Linked DNA regions of Homo sapiens: region 1 is linked to region 2. The links come from fine-mapping of genetic effects on plasma protein levels. Region 2 holds a variant in brackets. A gene starts in the other region. All regions are shown on their reverse strands.

Region 1 (2,915 bases), not on the chromosome of region 2:
CTTGGCAGTTCATATCCTTTTGTGTATGTGTGTGTATAGACTATGTATAACTTGCTTATACCCGAGTGTGGACATTTTAAGAACTTTCATATGTCTAGTTATTCCAATGTGAAAATGAAAATTATTCAATATCATTAAAACAGTAAAGTCAGTTGATAGAAATATATTTTATAGACACATTTATTTGCTCTATCATCAGCTCTTCTTCCTCTTGTCTTTAGAAAGAGATTGTTTAATTATTTGTGTAATTCAAAATGACATTAAGTTGATGTAGCAGCTCATAACACACTCTAAGTTTGTCAGGGTAGCAGATTGCACTGTGAGGAAAGCTTATCTGCCTCCGGGCTGGTGCCCTAATCTGTGTCTCATGTTCATTAGCAATGTGTCTGAATTAGTAGCCATCCATGGGCTGGAGAGTGAACTAATTTTTGCAACACTGACATTAATGGCTAACATTTATTGAATACTAAAATGAGCCAAGCACTGGGTCTAAGAATTTTGCATGCATTCAATTATTTGAGCCTCACAACAACCCTACAAGTTAGGCGGCGTTACTATGCCTGTTGTATAGATTAGGAAATAGACACAAAAAGATCAAATAACTTGCTTTAGAATTCACAAATATTAAGGGGCAGAACTGGGATTAGTATCCAGGCAATGTGGCTCTAGACCCAGTTTTCTTCATCAAGACTCTCTGCCACCTTAAATAACTTTCTATTCTTTTATCTTATTACAGAAAAATCCATGTACAGTTGACTTAAAGGCAAATCATATTTTATATTGGGCTCAACAAAATGATGTTCAAAATACTAACATTTAGTTACAAATAAAGGTATTTGTTTATATTTTGGTAAATATACCAACAGGAACTAGTGAGCTCACTTAAGTAGCCATTAGATTGGAAAAAAGTCAACATGTCTTTGGACTATTGATCTTATTATTATATTGTGAAAACAATAAATTTATGCCACTCTGAGATTTCTTGAAGAAAAACTTGTTTTTATGGGAAAAAATAATCTAAATATTCTTGCAATCTTTAAACACCTCAAGGAAAAGCTGGTATTTGGAGAAATGATTGTAACTATTAAATATATTCTAAAATCCTAGGCTATGTTTTTCTAAATTAATGCAATTAGAAGGATCTAAATTCTAACTATAGTTTACCCTTCCAAGCATTTTATAGATCAGGACAACGTAAGTAACTTATGAAATGAGTTAATGCTCATCAGTAGAAATATCAACACAGATGAGGTTTCAAAGTATGAATAAGATCAGATTTTCCTGATTGCAGTTTGTTAAGTGAAGGGATAGAAGAAAACTGAAGTCTGAGTTACTGTGGATCTTGATAATGCTAATAACAAAAAAAAAGAGAAAGTTGCTATCAAATCATCAATTTTAGTTGATGATTTCTAGAGCATGGTAACGCATTTCCTATTTTATAAAACAAAGCACCAAATATTACACAGTTTTGCTCAGTAGAGAAGATTTTCAAAAGTAATAAAACCATACTTGGGTGGCAAGCATCTTAAAAACGTAAACAACTATGATATAAAGCTATTTGCTGTCAAGAACATGAAAGCCAAATTACCTGGTATCTTTCACCTTCAGAATACCTGGCTTCTTGTTGCAGGATTAGAAGTCTCTGGGCATTTTGCTGAAATTTAAAGTTTGTTAGAGTTCCCAATGGCCAATCAGCACTGGCTCACTCAGCGCTAGCAAACAATTTGTTACAAGCGCCCACAGATAACCATAGGGGGTGAAGTAATTTTAATCTAAAAATGTGTTTGTGGTAGAAAGCTACTATCAAATGTTCCAGAAAGTGGGATAAACAGAAAATATAAATACCTCAGTTTGGACATCATGTTGTCAGATAATCAAAATTGATTTCAGAACTGCTAATTAGGACTGACTGAATACCTAACAAGTTTAGAAATGGAAAACATTTTTGCTATCCTTTTATGTAGAAAGTTTATGATGTCAATTTTATCTAAGTGAAATTCAGCAACATTTAACAAAAATGTTTTAGGTGCCTACTGTGTGACAGGCATTGGCGAAACTGCAGTGAACAAAACAAGACAGAAAAAAATCCCTGTCTTCCTGGAGCTTAGAATCCAATAAGGGAGACAGATAATAAACAAGATAAATGAGTTAAATAGATTAGATAGTGACATATACTAAGTCTAAGGAGAAAAAGTATTGTTGGGGAGTAACAAGCATTGGGGGTGGGGACACTGGGTTGAAATTTTAGATAGGAAGTCCTGGGAAGGCCTCAATGAGAAGGCAACTTTTGAGTAAAGACCTTGTTATGGTTTCAATGTACGTGTCCCTCCAAAATTCCCATGTTAGAACTTAAACCCAAGGTGACAGTATTGAGAGATGGGCTCTTTAGAAGGTGATTAAGTCATGAAGGCAGACCCCAGTATGAATGGGATTAATGACCTTATAAAAGGGCAAGAAGAAACTAGCTAGTCCCTTTTTGCCCTTCTGCTTGTCTGCAGTGTGAAGACACAGCATTTGTCCCCTCTGGAGATGCAGTAGCAAGGTGCCAAATTGGAAGAAGAGATAGACAGCCCTCGTCAGGCAATGAACATGCTGGCCTCTTCATTGCGGAATTCCCAGCCTCCAGAACTGTGTGAAATAAATTTCTGTTTTTTATAAATTACCCAGTCTGTGGTATTCTGTAGTAGCAGCATGAACAGACTCAGATAAGCCTGCAGCCATATGACTGTCTATGGGAAGACCATTCCAGGAAGAAGAAATAAGAAAAATAGTGCCCCAGAAATAAAAGCCTTGTGACTTGTTCCAGGAACAGAGAAGAGGCCACTTTGGTTGGAGGCCTGAGCAAGGGGAATAGCAACAAATGAGGTCAGAAGGGTATTAGATGGCAGATGGTATAGGACCTGTAGGTCATTGCA
Region 2 (2,915 bases):
TGTATTTCCTGTTAATTTCTTACTCTGAAATATTAACTGTTTCTAAGACAACTCAATCAAGAAGTCTTCATCATCGCCCCCTCACTACTGAAGCATATCATCTAAAAAATTAATTCAAGAACATAAAAGTCTTAAAGATAGCACCGGATTAATTAGCACGTGGAACAACAGAATGTCAACATGCTCAAGCAAATGCACAATTGCTGTTAACCTTCACTGAAATAATAGGGGAAAGGCTATAACTACTTTTGAGGATCATCATCTATTACTTTTAAAAGCTGCAGTATATTCTTAATAATAAATGGAACAGCACAATCATTCACTTTTCATACAACACACAGTTTTCCAGTCATTTACAATTCACCAGTTACACTCAAAAATCGCCCCCCCAACCCCCCAACCAACCACCACACCATCACTTCCACCTTTTATGAAAAGACAACAGTTTTAAGCCATTTAAAAAACAGAGAGAGAGAATCCTGGCAGAAAATAATACACAGCTGTGATAATATCGTGTTATTTTAAAATACCATAATATAGTTTTACTTTTAATAATAAAAGATAAAAAAGGAGCGTCTGTGAATAATTAGAGATTGCAGTCTGAAGCCGGTTACAGTCACTGCAATTGATAATAAACTGAAAACCCCTTGAGAGCAGGTAAATGCTTTGCAACCCTGACCCCCTCGCTCTCACATTACTTAACTACCCTTCGGTTCTTGCATTACATCACCATTCAAGCGATTGGTTCCTGCATTTTAACTCTCTCCCTGTCTCCTCCGATTAGGAGCGACACCGCAGCAAAGAAACTTCGCCCGAGTTTGCTCTTTCTCGCTTCGCTCTTTATTTGTGGCCCTTTTGCTCTGGTTGCTTTGGTTTGCTCTGCTTTTTTTTTTTTTTCTTTTTTCCTCCAACCCGGCCTCTGTTCAACTCATTCAGGTCTCTGTGCTAGAACAAAAACTCTGATCGAAGTGAAAAGAAATGCCTCTTCGGGCAAGAAGAGGAGCGGAGGGGCTGGGGAAAGAGGAGAAGGAAGAAGAGGAGAAACAAAGACGGGCAGAAAGGGAGAAGGGGGAGAAAATGAAGAGGAGGAGGAGGAGGACGAAGGCTCAAAAACAGAAGGCAGTAGGGGCAAAAAAAATCTATAAAATCAGGAGAAAAGAAAATAAAATTAAAAACAAACCTCATGGACATCACTGAGGCTGAATTCCCTCCTGAGGTGCAGAACATGAGAGCTCTGGAATGAGTGTGTGTAGAATTTGAGCCAAAGCTTAACTAGCTTGAGTGAGTCATATCCTTCCCATTTGATTCCAGGCCAAGCGATGATGTAATGTGCTGGCCCTTCTTTTGCGCCTAGCTCTGGCTCTCCCTCCGGCTGGGCTCTCGCTCACTTGCTCTCTTTCTCCTGGTCTCGCCCTCCTCCCCCTTCTCCTTTTTAGCTCAGTGCTAGTGAAGTCACCA[C/T]TTAAATCTGGCAGAACTGAAGCAAAAACTTCAATGTAACCAAAACAGCCCCAGGCTGAGTTCCAGGCTCGGAGAGCCTTCGTGGTGCACTTGCCCTTAGAAACGGGTAAACAAAGGGGGAAACAGTGCCGCTGGGGATGGCCCTACAGCTGCCATCAGAGAGCTCCAAGAGGGACCCGGAGTTCTGCAGGCAGGGGTCAGCTGGTTCTGCTGGAAACAAAAAAAAAATACTGGTTAAAAAAAAAAAAAAAAAAGAGTGCCCTGTGTTTGGAGAAAGGGAAATAACATCAAGACACGTGTAGAGATGGGGAAGCAGGGAGTGAAAGATGGCAGGTTGGAAGGTCTGAGTGTGAAAAACTAACCTCAGTTAGCAGCTTGGGCTTTGGTTCAGAACCAGGTGACAGGGTTTCCATCGCCCAGGGCCCTTTTTTCCTGGAGCTGGATGGGATTTTCTGTTGCTGAATGCCAACCACCAGCCCTCCGGAGACTTCTCGCATCTGACCTCCCTGTCAGCGAGGGCAAAACCACTTCTGGTCCAAACACGTGCCCGTGTCTGGAGCCACCAAGGGCTGTGAAATCACAGTCACTTCTCCCTTGGCCCCTATGGGTCACCCTGTCAGGTGCTAAAGGAAAAAGACCCCAGCCACAAAACACAAAACTTGCCTTTCTGAGATTAGCACTCCACCCTCAGGTGAACCTTCCAAAGGAGAGGGAAGGAAGACAAGTTCTCCCTTAAAATGAAAGACAGGCTGTGCCCCCACAACTCAACTCGCTGGAGGGGGTGCTGGTGTGGGTGGGGCCGTCTGTGACTTTAAAGAGGAGAACAGACAGTATGTGTGTCTCTTTTTTAATTACAGAGTGAGGAAAAACAGCCTGGGGAGGTGGGGGCAGTCAAGCATGATCCTTCACAAATGACAGTGAAGCCTTTTTAATGGCTGAATTCTACCCCTCACTTCACACCTCCCCACTCAGGGCTCCACCACGACAATGACAACAGTCCAGACACTACTCTATTAGCAGGGCTTTTTAACCCCATCATCTCTCCGTTTTGCTATTTCTCCCCACACTTCATGTTTCCTTCAAAAAGAAAAAAGTAACATGAAAATGGGAAGTTCGCTAGAATTTTTTTTAAATACCACAAAAGCAGAAGAAAGGCATGAAGCTGCAATTTTTTTTTCCTTTTCCAAAAATGACCATGGCTTGTGCTACAGTCTATTGCCCCTAATGCCTTTTGTGGCCAATGAATCAGGTAGATAAGACAAACATTGTCTCTGCACGTTGCAAAGCACAGAGGATCTTGACTTCTAAACTGTGTTTTTGGAGAAATCTCTCAGCTTATTAAAGACGTCCACTGATGGAGGTCAGGGATATTCATCTGAATCCCCTGGAATTTAAATCACAGCTTCAGGGAGTGTTGCCGTACTCAGGGTGAAGAGTTAAAAAGCAATATTTGCCCA

Alleles and levels. Alleles are on the strand shown, and positions count from the first base shown. The strength of an association depends on the size of the effect and on how common the allele is.
For the plasma level of the protein whose gene starts at base 1,634 in region 1, T is the high allele of the variant in region 2 and C is the other (weak association).

What was found. PIP is the posterior inclusion probability: the model's chance that the variant is causal. The UK Biobank Pharma Proteomics Project read protein levels with antibody pairs (Olink). The fine-mapping took linkage between variants from a reference panel, not from the people measured, so its PIPs are less certain.
Region 1: it holds the start of MEPE, and the variant in region 2 is fine-mapped to the plasma level of the MEPE protein (UK Biobank, PIP above 0.99).

The regions. Positions count from the first base shown.
Region 1 is chr4:87,831,688-87,834,602 of GRCh38, reverse strand. MEPE (matrix extracellular phosphoglycoprotein) reads right to left here and starts at 1,634. Exons shown (of 4, transcript NM_020203.6): 1 at 1,589-1,634.
Region 2 is chr7:28,684,463-28,687,377 of GRCh38, reverse strand. The region is part of intron 5 of CREB5 (cAMP responsive element binding protein 5); the gene reads right to left. Among named protein-coding and RNA genes, the nearest start is that of TRIL, 270 kb to the left of the region's middle. RefSeq lists enhancers at 1,451-1,959, 2,176-2,225 and a silencer at 1,898-2,067. The variant C/T (reference allele first, on the strand shown) is at 1,459.